2 linked regions of the Homo sapiens genome follow. The protein of the gene in region 1 interacts with the protein of each later gene in a pairwise test. Each region holds a gene or a part of one and is shown in the gene's direction. Other genes may lie near its edges.

The links. Proteins that work in one complex are often made in the same cells at the same time.
Region 2: the proteins of CPLANE2 (region 1) and RND3 interact in binary tests that used the Homo sapiens proteins (3 or more experiments, as listed by UniProt).

What each region holds. Positions count from the first base shown.
Region 1 is NC_000001.11:16,233,861-16,241,483, reverse strand, and holds the start of CPLANE2 (ciliogenesis and planar polarity effector 2), read left to right. Parts: upstream 1-4,300; 5' UTR 4,301-4,741; coding exon 4,742-4,853; intron 4,854-7,623. UniProt on the Homo sapiens protein: Required for efficient primary cilia initiation, regulating a late step in cilia initiation. Plays a role in the final maturation of the mother centriole and ciliary vesicle that allows extension of the ciliary axoneme.
Region 2 is NC_000002.12:150,477,491-150,484,987, reverse strand, and holds part of RND3 (rho-related GTP-binding protein RhoE precursor), read left to right. Parts: intron 1-7,497. UniProt on the Homo sapiens protein: Binds GTP but lacks intrinsic GTPase activity and is resistant to Rho-specific GTPase-activating proteins.

The sequences.
Region 1 (7,623 bases):
AAAGAGGTAATTAAGGCACGCTTTTCATCTGTCCCGCTGAGTGTTTGCCTCTTGATCAGGAACTCCTGCTTCTCCCTGCCTCTAAATGGACCCCAACTGCTCCTGCTCGCCTGATGGTTCCTGCGCCTGTGCCGGCTCCTGCAAATGAAAAGAGTGCACATGCACCTCCTGCAAGAAGAGCTGCTGCTCCTGCTGCCCTGTGGGCTGTGCCAAGTGTGCCCAGGGCTGCATCTGCAAAGGGACGTCGGACAACTGCAGCTGCTGTGCCTGATGCCAGGACAGCCCTGCTCTCAGATGTAAATAGAGCAACCTTATAAACCTGGATTTTTTTGGTACAACCCTGACCCATTTGCTACATCTTTTTTTCTATGAAATATGTGAATGGCAATAAATTCATCTAGACTAAAAAAAAAAAAAAAAAAAAAGGTAATGAAGGGTGAGCATGGTGACTGATGACTGTAATCCCAGCACTTTCAGAGGCCAAGGCAGGCAGATCACTTGAGGCCAGGAGTTTGAGACAAGCCTGGGCAACAAGGCAAAACCGTACCTCTAAAAAAATACAAAAGAAAAAGTCCGGGCATGGTGGCTAATGCCTGTAATCCCAGCACTTTGGGAGGCCAAGGCGGGCGGATCACCCGAGGTCAGGAGTTCAAGACCAGCCTGGCCAACATGGTAGAACCCCGTCTCTACTAAAAATACAAAAATTAGCTGGGTGTGGTGGCAGGCGCCTGTAATCCCAGCTACTTGGGAGGCTGAGGCAGGAGAATCACTTGAACCTGGGAGATGGAGGTTGCAGTGAGCAAAGATCGCGCCATTGCACTCCAGCCTGGGGCACAAGAGCGAGACTTTGTCTCAAACAAACAAACAAAAATACAAAAAAAAAAAAAATTAGCCAGGCGTGCTGATATGCACCTGTAGTCCTAGCTCCCCTCGGGGCTGAGGCAGGAGGATTGCTTGAGCCTGAGGAGGTCGTGGCTGCAGTGAGCTGAGATCACACCACTGCCCTCTAGCCTGGGTGACAGAGTGAGGCCCTGTCTCAAAAAATAAAAGAAAAAGGTAATCAAGGTTAAATGAGACCATAAGCATGGAGCCCTAATCCAGTAGGACTAATGTCCTATTTGTAACAGAGGAAGAGACACCAGACATGTATAAGCACAGAGAAGAGGCCATCTGTAAGCCAGGAAGAGAGGCCCCACCCAGAAACCAACTCTGCTGGCACCTTGATCTTGGACTTCCAGCCTCTAGAACTATGAGAAAATAAATTTCTGTTGTTTAGAGTACCCAGACTGTGGTATTTTTGTTACAGCAGCCTGGGCTGACTCATATAGACCCCAACTTCAGAACTGCCTAGTGCTTTTGTCAAATCTGCAGGCTCACAGACCTACCCAGCCCCTGACACAGAATGTCGGGGTTGGATGTGTGAACCCCAAATATCTGAGACAGGTCACAGTCAATTTAGAAAGTTTATTTTGCCAAGGTTAAGGATGTGCCCGTGACAGCCTCAGGAAATCCTGAGACATATACCCAAGGTGGTCAGGGGTACAGTTTGCATTTAAGTTTTAGGGAGACATGAGACCTCAATCAATATGTGTAAGATGTACATTGGTTTGGTCTGGTAAGACAGGACAGCTTGAAGCAGGGGCTTCCAGGTTAGAAATACATAAGAGACAAGGCCAGGTGCAGTGGCTCATGCCTATAATCCCAGCACTTTGGAAGGCTGAGGTGGGCGGATCATGAGGTCAGGAGATCCAGACCATCCTGGCCAACATGGTGAAACCCCGTCTCTACTAAAATACAACAACAACAAAAATTAGCCGGACATGGTGGGGCATGCCTATAGTCCCAGCTACCTGGGAGGCTGAGGCAGGGGAATCACTTGAACCTCAGAGGCAGAGGTTGCAGTGAGCCGAGATTGTGCCACTGCACTCCAGCCTGGGCGACAGAGTGAGACTCTGTCTCAAAAAAAAAAAAAGTAGATAGGAGACAAAAGATTGCATTCTTTTGAGTCCTTGATCAGCCTTCCACTGAATACATAATTTTATTTATTCAGCTCTGTCACCCAGGCTGGAGTGCAGTGATATGATTCTGCTCACTGCAACCTCCACCTCCCAGGTTCAAGCGATTCTTCTGCCTCAACCTCCAGAGTAGCTGGGATTACAGGCGCCTGCCATCACAGCCAGATAATTTTTGTATTTTTAGTAGAGACAGGGTTCACCATGTTGGCCAGGCTGGTCTTGAACTCCTGACCTCGGGTGATTTGCCCGCCTCAGCCTCCCAAAGTGCTGGGATTACAGGCGTGAGCCACCGCGCCCAGCCATTTTTTTGTATATTTTTAGGGATAAGGTTTTGCCATGTTACCCAGGCTGGTCTCAAACTCCTGACCTCAAGTGGTCCACCAGCTTCAGCCTCCCAAAGTGCTGGGATTACAGGCGTGAGCCACCGCACATGGCCCCAAGAGGACTTTACATCTTCTCTGGGTTGCAGATTAACAGGCACGTTCATTCTGCCAAGTTGCTTCATTTTCTCACACGCTCACTGAGCCCTCCACGAGCCAAAGATGGGTGGATGTGAAGTCTGGAAATCCAGAAATAATTCAGATCAGAGCCCTGCCACTGAGTGACTCCTGGCCCATGGAGAGAGCTCTGGACAGCTGTGAATCTCCCTGACTGGGCAGATGTGACAGCTGCAGGAATGGGAACCATGTGACCTGGGAGTATGGGCAAAGGATTCCACCTGCAGAATCCTGTAGGAATGGTTATTCATCTGGTTTTTCTGCCTAGCCACAGCGTGAGCAAGTTGAGAGAAAGCACCTTGTCTTACACATCCTCATCCCCTCTCTTAGACATAATGGGCCTTAAAAATCTGTGAGTTCGTAGTCCTCTGGCTGCTTTCTGCTTCCCTAGGAACAGCCCTCCTAGTGGCTAGGGGCAAAGTTTTAAAAACACAAAACCCAAACTGGCAGAACAGATAAGTACTTTAGAGTCAGGTAAGTGTGGGTTCTTTTTTTTTTTTTTTTTTTTTTTTTGACAGGGCCTAGCTCTGTCACTCAGGCTGAAGTGCAGTGGCATGATCTCGGCTCACTGCAACCTCCATTTCCCGGGCTCAAGCAATCCTCTCATCTCAGCCTCCAAGTAGCTGGGACTACAGGCGTGCACTACTGTGCCCGGCTAATTTTTGTATTTTTTTTTTTGTAGAGGCAGGGTCTTACTATGTTGCCCAGGTTGGTCTCAAACTCCTGAGCTTAAGCAATCTGCCCGCCTCAGCTTCCCAAAGTGCTGGGATTACAGGCGTGAGCCACCACACCCAGCCAGCTGTGGGTTCTGAGTCGGTTTCACACTGACTAGCTGTGCGGTGTGACCTCAGACAAGTCACGTTATGTTTCTGAGAGTCTTCGTCAGTACAAGAGGGTAATACTATTTACACAGGTTTGTTTATAGAATTAAATCAGGTGACCCCTGTAAAGTCCCCACTGTCTGGCACTTGGGTGGCCTTAGGTAAAGCTTAACTCCTAAATTATTCCTTTCAAAACAGTGATTTGCCCTACTTGAAGGCATTGCGGAAAGATAATGGTAAAAATTAAATGTAATAGACAAACTCTCAGTAATGACCCACCTGCACTCTTTCCAACCAGTGGGCATTTACTGAGCACCCACCTTCTGGGTAACAGGCCTGGTGTCCAGTGCTGGAACGGTGGAGAGGAGCTCAGAGTTTCAGAGCTGAAAAGTCAGCTCCAGGAGAGCAGGGACTTCTTGTTGGCCACTGTATTCCCAGCTAGGTGCTCAGTATTTGTTGAATGAATGAATGAATGAAAAATACAATCCAGCGGGCCTCTGACTCATTTTTTAAAACTTGAGCCAAGTCCCTTGACCTCTCTGAGCTGGTGTGTGTCCCCATCAGTGAAGCCAGAGATGTTTAAGTCATCTAGAGGTCCTGCCAAGCAGGATTAATAGAGCAATAATATTAATAATAGCAACAATCATAACTAAACATATGGAGCACTGCTATGGAGGGAATAACATGTTACGTCCACGTTATAGAAGAGGAAACTGAGACACAGAGAAGCATGAAAGGCTCCTGGAGGGGGGGTTTCATGATGTTTTGGAAGAAAGACTAGGGATCGGACGGAGTCATAGAGAAGAGGATCCACAACCCAGAGGAAAAGGCCTAGTCCAGAGCCACCGCGCGGCGCAGGCTGCGGACGTTGTAGGAGGGACGAACGCCTCCCGGAACCCGCCCAACCCAACCTCCGGCGTCTCCATGGCAACAACCTCCGCACATGCGCCGCGCGCACCTGCGCCGGAGCTGCCAGCACGCGCAGAAGGCGGACGCAGGCGGGGCGGAAGTGGGCCCGGCGGGCTGGGGCGGCGGGAGTGCGGGTGGGCGTTTAAAGGGGCCTTCGGCACCCAGGTCGGTTCGCCGCCGGGACTGCTGACGGGGAGGGCTAGGTAGCCCTGGGAGTCGGGATCTAGAAGGTAGAGGAGAAGCGGGGCTGTCTGACCCCCGGAGGTGACAAGGGGAGAGGGGCTGTGTGAATACCCTCCATGGGCAGTAATGGGATGACTATCCCCAGGGAGCATTGCGAAGGAGAGAGGCGGCTGAGGGACTGCACTTTCTGGGGCCCCCCGGGAGAGTCAGAGGGCAGTTAAGAGGGATCACAGGCCCGGCTTGGTACTGTCACTCCCCTTCCCACTCCCTGCTCTCAGCATTCTGTCACCTCCCTACCCCGTCGCGGTGCCCAGCCATGGCCAGACCTCCCGTGCCCGGTTCGGTGGTTGTCCCAAACTGGCACGAGAGTGCCGAGGGCAAGGAGTACCTGGCTTGCATTCTGCGCAAGAACCGCCGGCGGGTGTTTGGTAAGTGCCTCCCCCTTTCCTCTAGCCCGCCACTTGTCTTTCCCTGGGGAGAAGAGTGTCACCTGTTGCTCCCTGAGGAGAGCAGAGAGGCAGGGCAGTGAGGGCCTGCTCCACTGCAGTCTTCAGCAGTCTTCAGCCTGGGGGACTGAAAGCCCTAGCTCTGGGACCCCCACACCTAAATCTCCTTAGAGCTAATTCCATCGTCAGAGCCAGGAACATGGAAACAGCAGAAACCTTGCCAGCAACCACTGTCACCAGAGATGCAGTTGATTGAGCACTCCCCTGGTGCCAGGCCCTCTGTTGGGCACGTTACACAGTGCACGCCCATTTAACCTCTCAACAGCACATGGTACAGACTTGGCTAAGATCACACCCCAATAAATAGAGGTGAGCCTCTTCCATGTCCTGCTGTCTCTGGGATGAGACGCTGGTGTTCCCCATGGTGAAACTGACTCACCCAGGCAGGGCCCAGCTGTCAGGCCGGCAGAGGTGCCTGGAATCAGCTGTGGAGCCCAGCTCTGGCCAGGAGAAGCAAGGTGCCAGAAGACTTAAGACCAGAGAGTGAGATAGCTAGAACCAAAATTTGTGAATAAGTCAACTGTTTGTTTGTTTTTTTAAAAGAAATTATATTAAATTCAAAAAATGACCCTCTAGAAGGCTGGGCGCAGTGGCCTGTAATCCCAGCACTTTGGGAGGCCGAGGTGGGCAAATCACCTGAGGTCAGGAGTTCAAGACCAGCCTGGCCAACATGGCGAAACCCCATCTTTACTAAAAATACAAAAATTAGCCGGACGTGGTGGCGGGCACCTGTAATCCCAGCTACTTGGGAGGCTGAGGCAGGAGAATCGCTTGAACACAGAAGGCAGAGGTTGCAGCAACCCTAGATCGAGCCATTGCATTCCATCCTGGGTGACAAGAGTGAAACTCCGTCTCAAAAAAAAAAAAAAAAAAAAGACCCTCTAATATGGCCACTGTCCCTCTAATCCCATGATGGCTGGCAACACTGTATTTGGGGTCACACATACCCAGGCAAGTGACCCAGGCTCCACCACTGCTAGCTGTATGGCTGGGAATAAGTGAACTCTAGCCTCAAGTCCCACCTCTGTAAAATGGGGATAATCACAGTATTTACCCCATAGAGTTACTGGGGAAATTAATAAGGAGGGTGTTTGTAACATACCAAGCAGGTTCTGGCATGCAGTGGGTGTTCACTGAAGGTTGGCTGTTATTGTATTTATTTTGCATTTAGTTGTGTTGAGTGGAAGAGAATTGAGTGAAGGTTGAGCTGATTTTCTGGGAACATCATAGAATCCACTGACCATATTATCTATGCCACAGATAGGATTAAGCAGCCATAACTTAGAGGAATGGCAGTGATGGCTTTTAATTTTTGTGTTTTTACTTTAACTGCAGACATTTGGGTTTTTTTTTAACAGCTGGGTTTATGCACCTGAATGTATCATTCAGTGGTTGTCATGCAGGCCCCACAACAAACGCTGAGAGCAGCTAGTAAATAAATATCAACAGACTGACTATAATGCTTAGGCTAGTCTCTTTGTATCCCAGACTTCTGTAAAATTAGGTTGAGTATTAAGAGCCACAGATGAGGCCGGGCACGGTGGCTCACGCCTGTAATCCCAGCACTTTGGGAGGCTGAGGCAGGCAGATCACCTGAGGTTGGGAGTTCGAGACCAGCCTGACCAACATGGAGAAACCCCATCTCTAAAAATACAAAATTAGCCAGGCATGGTGGCGCATGCCTATAATCCCAGCTACTCGGGAGGCTGAGGCAGGAGAATCACTTGAACCCGGGAGGCGGAAGTTGCAGTGAGATCACACCATTGCACTCCAGCCTGGGCAACAAAAGCGAAACTCCGTCTCAAAAAAAAACAAAAAAGAACCACAGATGGTTGGTTAGCCCTGAAGAAGCCATTAGAAATGAGGTTGTCCTTGGCTGTATGTGGTGGCTCATGCCTTGTAGTCCCAGCACTTTCGGAGGCCAAGGTGGGAGGATTGCTTGAGCCCAGGAGCTCAAGACCAGCCTGAGCAACATAGTGAGACCCCATCCGTATTAAAAATAGAAGGTAAAGAAAAAAAGTAAAAATAAATAAGTGAGACTGTCCAGCCCAGGATCTGATGGGGCAAGTGCAGGATTTACCCGCGTCTTAGTCCATTTTATGCTGCTACAACAGAATACCACACTCTAAGTTATTTATTTATTTATTTTTTGAGACAAAGTCTCGCTCTGTCGCCCAGGCTGGAGTGCAGTGGTGTGATCTCGGCTTAGCAACTTCCACCTCCCAGGTTCAAGCAGTTCTCCTGCCTCAGCCTCCCAAGAAGCTGGGATTATAGGCACCCACCACCACACCCAGCTGATTTTTGGTATTTTTTTTTGTAGAGATGGAGTTTCACCATGTTGGCCAGGCTGGTCTCGAACTCCTGACCTCAGGTGATCTGCCCGCCTTGGCCTCCCAAAGTGCTGGGATTACAGGTGTAAGCCACCGCACCAGGCCTCCTCTGTGTAATTTATAATGAACAGAAGCTTATTTGGCTCATGGTTCTGGAGGCTGGGAAGTCTAAGAACATGGCAGCAGCATCTGGAAAGGGCCTTCATGCTGTGTCATCCCGTGGCAGAAGGCAGAAGGGCAACAGCAAGACAGCAAGAGGCGCCCAAACTGGCTTTTATAACAAACCCACTCCCTCAATAACAACATTAATCCATTTATGAGGGCAGCTGATCACCTTGTGTTAGGCCCCACTTCCTAACACT
Region 2 (7,497 bases), on another chromosome or scaffold:
GGTATGTATTTGTTATGCCTACTGGATGGCACAGCTGGTGTGGTACCGATAATAAGCACCAGTACTCCCTGCCCCAACCGGCAGCCCTGTTTGGACCTAATGCACGATAAAAATTATTTTGGCACGGGGTGGAGCAGTGTGTCTGAACCAGTCGTTGATACAAAGCTGTGTTTAGATCTTAGCTCCTGGTTACCATGGATTTCTGTGTGCAAATCCCCTATCTCCCTGGGTCTCATTTTCATCATCTGTAAAAAGAGGACACTGAGCTAGATGATGTGCAGGATCTCTCCCAGCTGTACACTTCTTGGCTTTATTACGCTGGACAGGCAGGTCTTTTTGTTTCCCAGGATGTTGGTTGGCTTCAGCTCTTAGTCTTAGGGGATCTGGCATCCCGTGCTGGGGTTTTCACAGCCTGCAAAGCAAGCCAGGTTCTGGGCAGAGCCAGGCTTCCTGGTGGATTTAGGAATGAAACCCATCTGGACAGGGAGGGGGAATGGGTGGGCTTATAGGAATGCTGGGCTATACATTTCCTATCTCAAGCTTCAAGAGTGACAGGACCACCAATGGATATTTCGGAATAGATGCCTAAAGGGCTAAATTGATTCTTTTAGGGGAGAAAAGGCACATTGTTTGATAAAGGCTAGAACATAAACCAAAATGTGGGCAGTTTGTAGTTGGAGGCTGTCCTTCGTATGTGCAGGTAAATACCACTTCAGGTATCTTCATGCATTTAATCAAAACTCTGCAGTTCGTAGACTCTGCACACATAGCACAATGCCTTGCATACAGCAGTTATCCAATAAAATCTGATGAATGAGTAAATGAGTAATGATATGCATAGTTGCCAAGGAGATGAGGTTCCCTGACATTTATTCACACTGAATTACCTGTGCACAAAGAATGGCAACTTTATAAACATTGCCTTTCATCGAATTAAAGATAATCATCTGAAATGAATTTGTAGTGAAATAATCACTTGTCTTTTTATTTAATGAAACCAAAACTTATGTATGTTTAACTAAAATATAAAGGTTTGAAAATGTGATGAAGAAAATTTTGTACTGCAAAATTATCCGGTAATGAAATCTTAGTTAGAATTTAGATTTAAACAAATGGAAAAAAGAGGCATAAGGGAATTATTTAGAATTCCATTATGTTGTTCATGAGGTGAAATGTTAGTTAGTTAAACACAGTCACCAAGCACTGCTTACTTAAATTCTAAGAATAGCCTGTTTCCATCAAAAGTGATTTGTTGTTTATATCTAGCAGGAACCATTGAATCAGCAACTAATTATTTCAAGGATCTTTAACATTTTTCCATTTAATTCCAAGCTTTTCATGGCAAATTTCTGGACAGGACTATTTTTTGGTAAATGTTTGACATTTTCTTTGCCCACTAAAACATTTATTTAGTTCAGATTGTAAAAATAATTGCATATGCCTTATGCCTCTTGATACATTTATTTTTTCCAAAGGCCATCAATATAACTCTGGAGAAAAGATCCCAGCCAAGTCTGTAAAGTTCTAAATGTCAGATAAATTGCACTTTTTATTTCCCTCCTAGAACTTTGTGAAAGAGACTTATATAGGAAAAATTGGGTGTGCCTGACTGCTCTTATATAGGGAGAGATACGGGATGAACATTGTCCTTTGAATGATATTTCCTGTCCTGTTTACCCTCCTAGCAGAAGGGCAACCATTTAGAAGACAGAAACAGTTCCTCTCTTATCTGGCCTCTTTAGTTGGACAGCTTCTCATAAGGGGTCTACTTTTGCCCCCAGCAGTCATGATCATGCATAGGCAAACTCTGCCAATTTGGATGTGAGAAAGACTACCAAGTGAAAGTAGGATATGTGAAGTCTCTTTGCACCAAGAAAAAAAAATAATTTCCTGCTTTTTAAGGCACAGTAACTTAATATTTCCTTCCTTTCTCCCTTTCTCCATCCATCTCTTCCTTTTTTCCCGCATCCACTATAAACAGGCCCTCTGTCAAGACCTTAGAGATACAGTGTTAATTAAGCATGGTCCTGCTCCTAAGAAGCAGACAGTTCAGGTGGGGTAATGGAGAAAAAGAAGCTCTTCTGGTTTAGCGTGTATTTCATTAACAACTCATGATGCACCTAATTTTGTCAGGTCCTTGAACCCCAGTGCCCTTTTCCACTTGGTTGCAATGTTTTTCCTTTGTCAGACATCCTAGGGCTTATAGATCCTCTGGATCCTCTTCAGATAGGAAACAGCTACCCCCGCACCGCCCCCCCCACCCCCGCCCATTGCACACACCAGTTAAAGCAACTACAAAAGGCATTTTGCCAGTCAATTCTTAGGGCTACAGTACTCCAGCCCCCCCAACAAAAGTAAACAAAACCTTTGTAAAAATGCTGTAGGAATCATCTAAAAGAGGGAATTTTTAAGGCCCATAACTTCTTCATTTTCCTAAAAAATATTTTTCATTATAAAATGAACATTCTTAATAGTTGCAGAAATGCTCCCATTGATTTTCAAATTTCACCCAATGAGTTTCTGCCAAACAATGGGTAATAGTTTCAATTGTGAAGTAATAAGTAAGACCAAAGTAATTCTAATATCTTGTGCTTCAAAATTGGCCACATTTGCCAAGCATAGAAGTAATTTGTAGCATGAAGCCAAATGCCTACTAATAATAGAAATGTAGTCATTTAAGGATCACTGTATCTTTTCCTAAGAGATTTGATTGCAGTGTAATTTCAGCACATGTGATTTAGGGAGTAATAATCATTCATTCCAGCTTTTTAACCAAGGCAAGTTAATGCACATTTTATTTAAGGCTTATTATTACTTTTAACATATTCAATTCAGCTGCTAAATTCCCCACAATAACTATGCTATTGCCTCATGAACACTCTTTCGAATCTTGTCATGATCCAAGTTTCTTTTAAGCCCTGAGTGCTAAAGTTAGTACTTCCTATTTTAGTTTTTAGCATTACTAACACTTAAGGTGGTATCCTTTATTTCTTAGAGAAAAAGAGAGGAAAAATATCTTAGTTACCTAATGGCCTTAATATGAGGACAAACTTCTCTATAAACAGAAGTCTATCTAAGCTGTTATATTTAGATTATTGTACATCAAGTATGAAGAATGGTCTTGGTGACAAGCTCTCTAATGAAATATTTCTTAACAGGGATGGAAATGGTTCAGCAGTATTGGAGATTAGTATATAATTAATCCAGAAAAGCAGCTTAAAAGGGGATCACTGCTCTCTCTCTCCCCCTCCCCTTTTTTTTTGGTGATTTAGCATATAAATGAACACATCTAGACAAGACATAAAAATGATTATAAAACCAGTAAACATGGTTTAGTGCTTTCTGTGTGCATACAATCTGCTAGATGCTATGGGAGGAGTACAGAGCTGGGTGAGAGCAGCTTCTGCCCTTAGGTACTCACAGTTTCACCATGTGATAAGACAGACATGGTGAAAACATGAGTGACAATAAAATTTAAAATATTCAGGCTTTCCCAAACTAACAAAAGAAATCAAATGAGAAGCCCGGATTAAGTGTCAGGTGTTTAGGTGAGAGGAGATGCCAGTAGACTGAGATTTGAACAGGGTAAAGACATCCTTCTTCCCTGACAACCTTCTTTGAATACCCACAGGACAAACAGAGGACATAGAAAGACTTCCTCCTGTCTAGTGCTGTAATACCTGTTTATAGGATGGTGAGCCCGGAGGTTCTAAACCTGGATTTTTCAAGGAGCAACAAGATCCAAAGAGTTCTTGAAGGCCACAAGGGCAGCCCAGGCTCCCTAACTCATGACTTAATGGTCATTGAGGCCCACCACAATTCCCTTCCTTTCTAGAAGTTGACTAAGTTCTAAGAAGTTTTTAACGTTTCTTCCACGTGGAAACTCGCTTACATTTAGTGGCTCTCAGATAAAACAAGATTCTGGAAGCTGAGAATTATAACTTAAATTAACGTTCTTGGAGAAAGGAAGAGGTTAAGAATTTATGAAGGAGCCAGAGAAGCATGGATGCTTGGGATTTGAATATCAACTGTGAAATTGCAGGAAACCAAGCATTTCATCAGGTAGTAATGATCCATTGGAGCTTAGGGTTTCAAAACTAGGTTTAATTCTTAACGAGTTTTCACACTGAAACTCTTATGTAAAAGACCTGGGTTAAGGTAAAACAGATAGTTTGTATGGTGGTTTCCAATAAGCAGTACATAAAACTGCATTTGGAGATTTGTCCACCATGCAGTAATTTCCATTTAAACCAAGGAACCTCCTAAAAAGGGGAGGGGGCAGTATGAATGCTCTTTCTAAGTCTACATCTGTCTGTAGATTTTTTTTTTTTAGCCGCATTTAGTGCTGTTTTTTTTCCAATCTGGTTTCTTGCTAAGTTGCACATTTCAATGAAGCATCCAAATTGGTCATTCTGATAACACCCGAAATAACCAGATGTTTCCTCATTAATCCAGTTCTTTTGCATGTAAATATGACACCAAGAACCAATACTTTCTCCAGTTAGCTCATGGTGCCTGGCGGGCTCTGCCAAATGAATTAGTCGTGGCTCAGTCATTTTCTGATGTCCTTTAAATGACTTCTCAGTTGCTACATATTGGTCACTTTCTCAGAGTCTCCCTTGGCAAAGCAAACATTTTATTGACACGGAATGTAGTTGACGCAGAAGTTTGACCAGGTGTTGTGCACATTGGTTTTGAAAAATGAGCCTGATGACATAGTTTGTGGAAAGATGAATTCACTCATGGGATTCTACTCCAAGAAATCTGATTCTTAGATATCATATGAAACAAAAACTTGAATCCATTATCCCTATTTACTTTTAGGCATATTCATATACATATACTCTTTTCCCTAAAGCTCTTGACTTAACCATGGTTCCACTGTCAGTAAAATATTTTGATTCTTACATATTTTTAAGTACCTCAATAAGATTAGGAGTTTAAAGCTAAACTTTATTTAAAGGCCAAACATATCTACCTGTCTGACTTTCTAATTTTGTATCTACATTGCCCCCAGAAATAGAAAATCTTTATTCCATTTTAATAGCAACACATAAATGCCCACAAAATTTTATAAGATCTGTTCATAGTTCCTATTACCTGAATCCATGGAAGAAACAAACATATTCTTCCTGGGAGTGTTTGTTGCATATTTGCAGGCATGGTATTTGTTGTGCAGACTACTTGAAACAAGAACTAAACAGTCTTACACTGAGTCAGATACAAAAGTTCTGCCCAGACTTGATTCACATTCTTGAGATTGCTGCTAATTTAAACCTTTTCCTCTGATTAGAGATGGCATGAGGAAATGCAATCTTGTAATAATTGGGCAGATCATGCCCTCTCACATGTTAGCTGCTGCTGCGTTCAGATGTGCTCATGGTGGTCACTAAATATACCAAAAGTTAATCTACTTTTCTCTGCCAAAAATATGCAATAGCTTTAGCTTACTCTTCTTGGTAAAAATTTCTTAAGGGGGAAAGGGAAGCTTTTCAGATGAAGGTTCAAGTTAAATAAATTATATTTATGAAATATTCAACAAGAAGAGTTTTCAGTTCTCCAACTCCTCTAAAGCCTCACAGTGTTTAAACTGGTACTTTGCAAAAGGTTCCATAAAGCCTTCCTTTTGGGCATGAATCTTCTTACATATACATTTAATTATGTACATATATGGTGTGTTCTATATTTGCGAAAGGGTGACTTCAGCAGGCAGGTATGTGTCTGAAGAATTAGTTTCTGGGTGAGGCACGTTGTGACTATTCTTTGGCTGGAAATTTTGCTCTCACCCAGAATTAATGATCTTGAATACAAAGATGGGTAGATCTGAAATTTCAAAAGCTCTCTAGAACTTTGCTGATGTTTGCCAAACTTGAGCAACTCAGAGAACCCCAAGTGTACACTTGTTCCAATCTACCCCCAGCAAAGCCTTTCAACTATATTTTCTGGGTGAGCGGGGTACACATTTTGCATATATAGTGTAGTTGTTTCTTTACAATATAGAGTTTCCCTAAGTTTTTCCTTCAGAGGTGTGGCAGGTTACTTAAAAAGGACCTTGGAATAGGGTTGCGAGCTTAAAAGTTTCATATAGTACCAGAGAAATGCTGCATCTGAGAATTTCCATATGCATGAAGCCTATTCCACATGCTGAAAAAGAGTTTCATTTGACAAGCCAAACGCAGTCCCTAAATGTTATTGGACTTTAGTGCATTCTTAGGTACTAGAGCACATACTCTGTGTATATCAATACCTACCATGTACTGCAGTTAAAGTTGAATACTTTCATACTTAGTAAAAATTGTTGAGCCCTCCTGCTTGTGCTGTGTTTAGTTCTACAGTTAGCACCTTGGGAGTTTTTCATGTGCATCTTTTAAAAACACCTATAGAAGTTAATTTTTTTTTTTTTTTTTTGCCGTTTGGCTTCACAGGGTGTTGTAAGACTTTTCTGGAGGGATATAGGAGTTAGGGGCAGGTATTGTTCCTGCTTTACCCACTTACTTTCAGCTCCTTCCTTTGGTGTCATTTCTGCCCCTCTTTATTGCTTCTCACTTCACAGAGTCATTTCTGGAATTCCTCTTCCTTTTTTTTTGGCATGCGTTGTCTCACGCATACCTGTGATTCCACCGTGCCCTCTCCAGCTTTGCTTGCCTTACTTCCTTTGTGCAGTCTCTTGGGCTTTATGGGGAAGAAAAGGAAGGATTCCAAGTGCTTAAACACAGAGTAAACACTGTAAAGTTACACAGGAGGTGTTTTTGTGTGTGAGTGTTTTTGTTTTTTGTTTTGCTTTGTTTTTTTTTTTATCCTGAAAGTCCTGCTGAGCTGATGACTTACATCTTTCCTGGTGGGACAGTTCTTGATAATTCTATATCAATATTTTTCACTGTGAATAAATAGAGACAATAGATATTTCTATCTAAGACAAGATAAACTTAACCTATCAAAAATATAGTGAATAAATGGTCTTGTTATTTTAAATAAATTACTCTTGTCATTGGCAGTCAAATTATGCTTATAACTAAGAAATATGGGAATCAGTTTTACTATTACCTTTGGACACTCGTGTTGATCTAAAAGCAGCACTGTTCATTAGCAAAAGTAATAGAATGGGATCAAAGTGTCATCCCTAATTAGATCATGTTAAACCTCTTAAAAATTACCTGTCTACCTCCACAAGCACGGTGGTTTATTTCTCATAAACCTTTGCACTACATATGTATTTTCACTTATACTGTTAACCGGATAAAAACAAAAGCAGATACAAACTTCCCTGAAAATCTGGTTTAACTGGAGAACTCCGTTTCATTTTAAAATCAGGCCAGAGTCTAAATTTTGCAGATATTTAGATATATGCACTAAGCACAGAAGCCAGCCCACTTGATTTTAGTAGGTAGCAGTCTCCAGCAGGTGACTCAGGGCTGAGCACAAAGCCAGATCTCCTTTGTGGCCATAAAATGGGTGGGGGACGGGAAACATAGTCCACAAAGGGGGGAGGGGTATTCC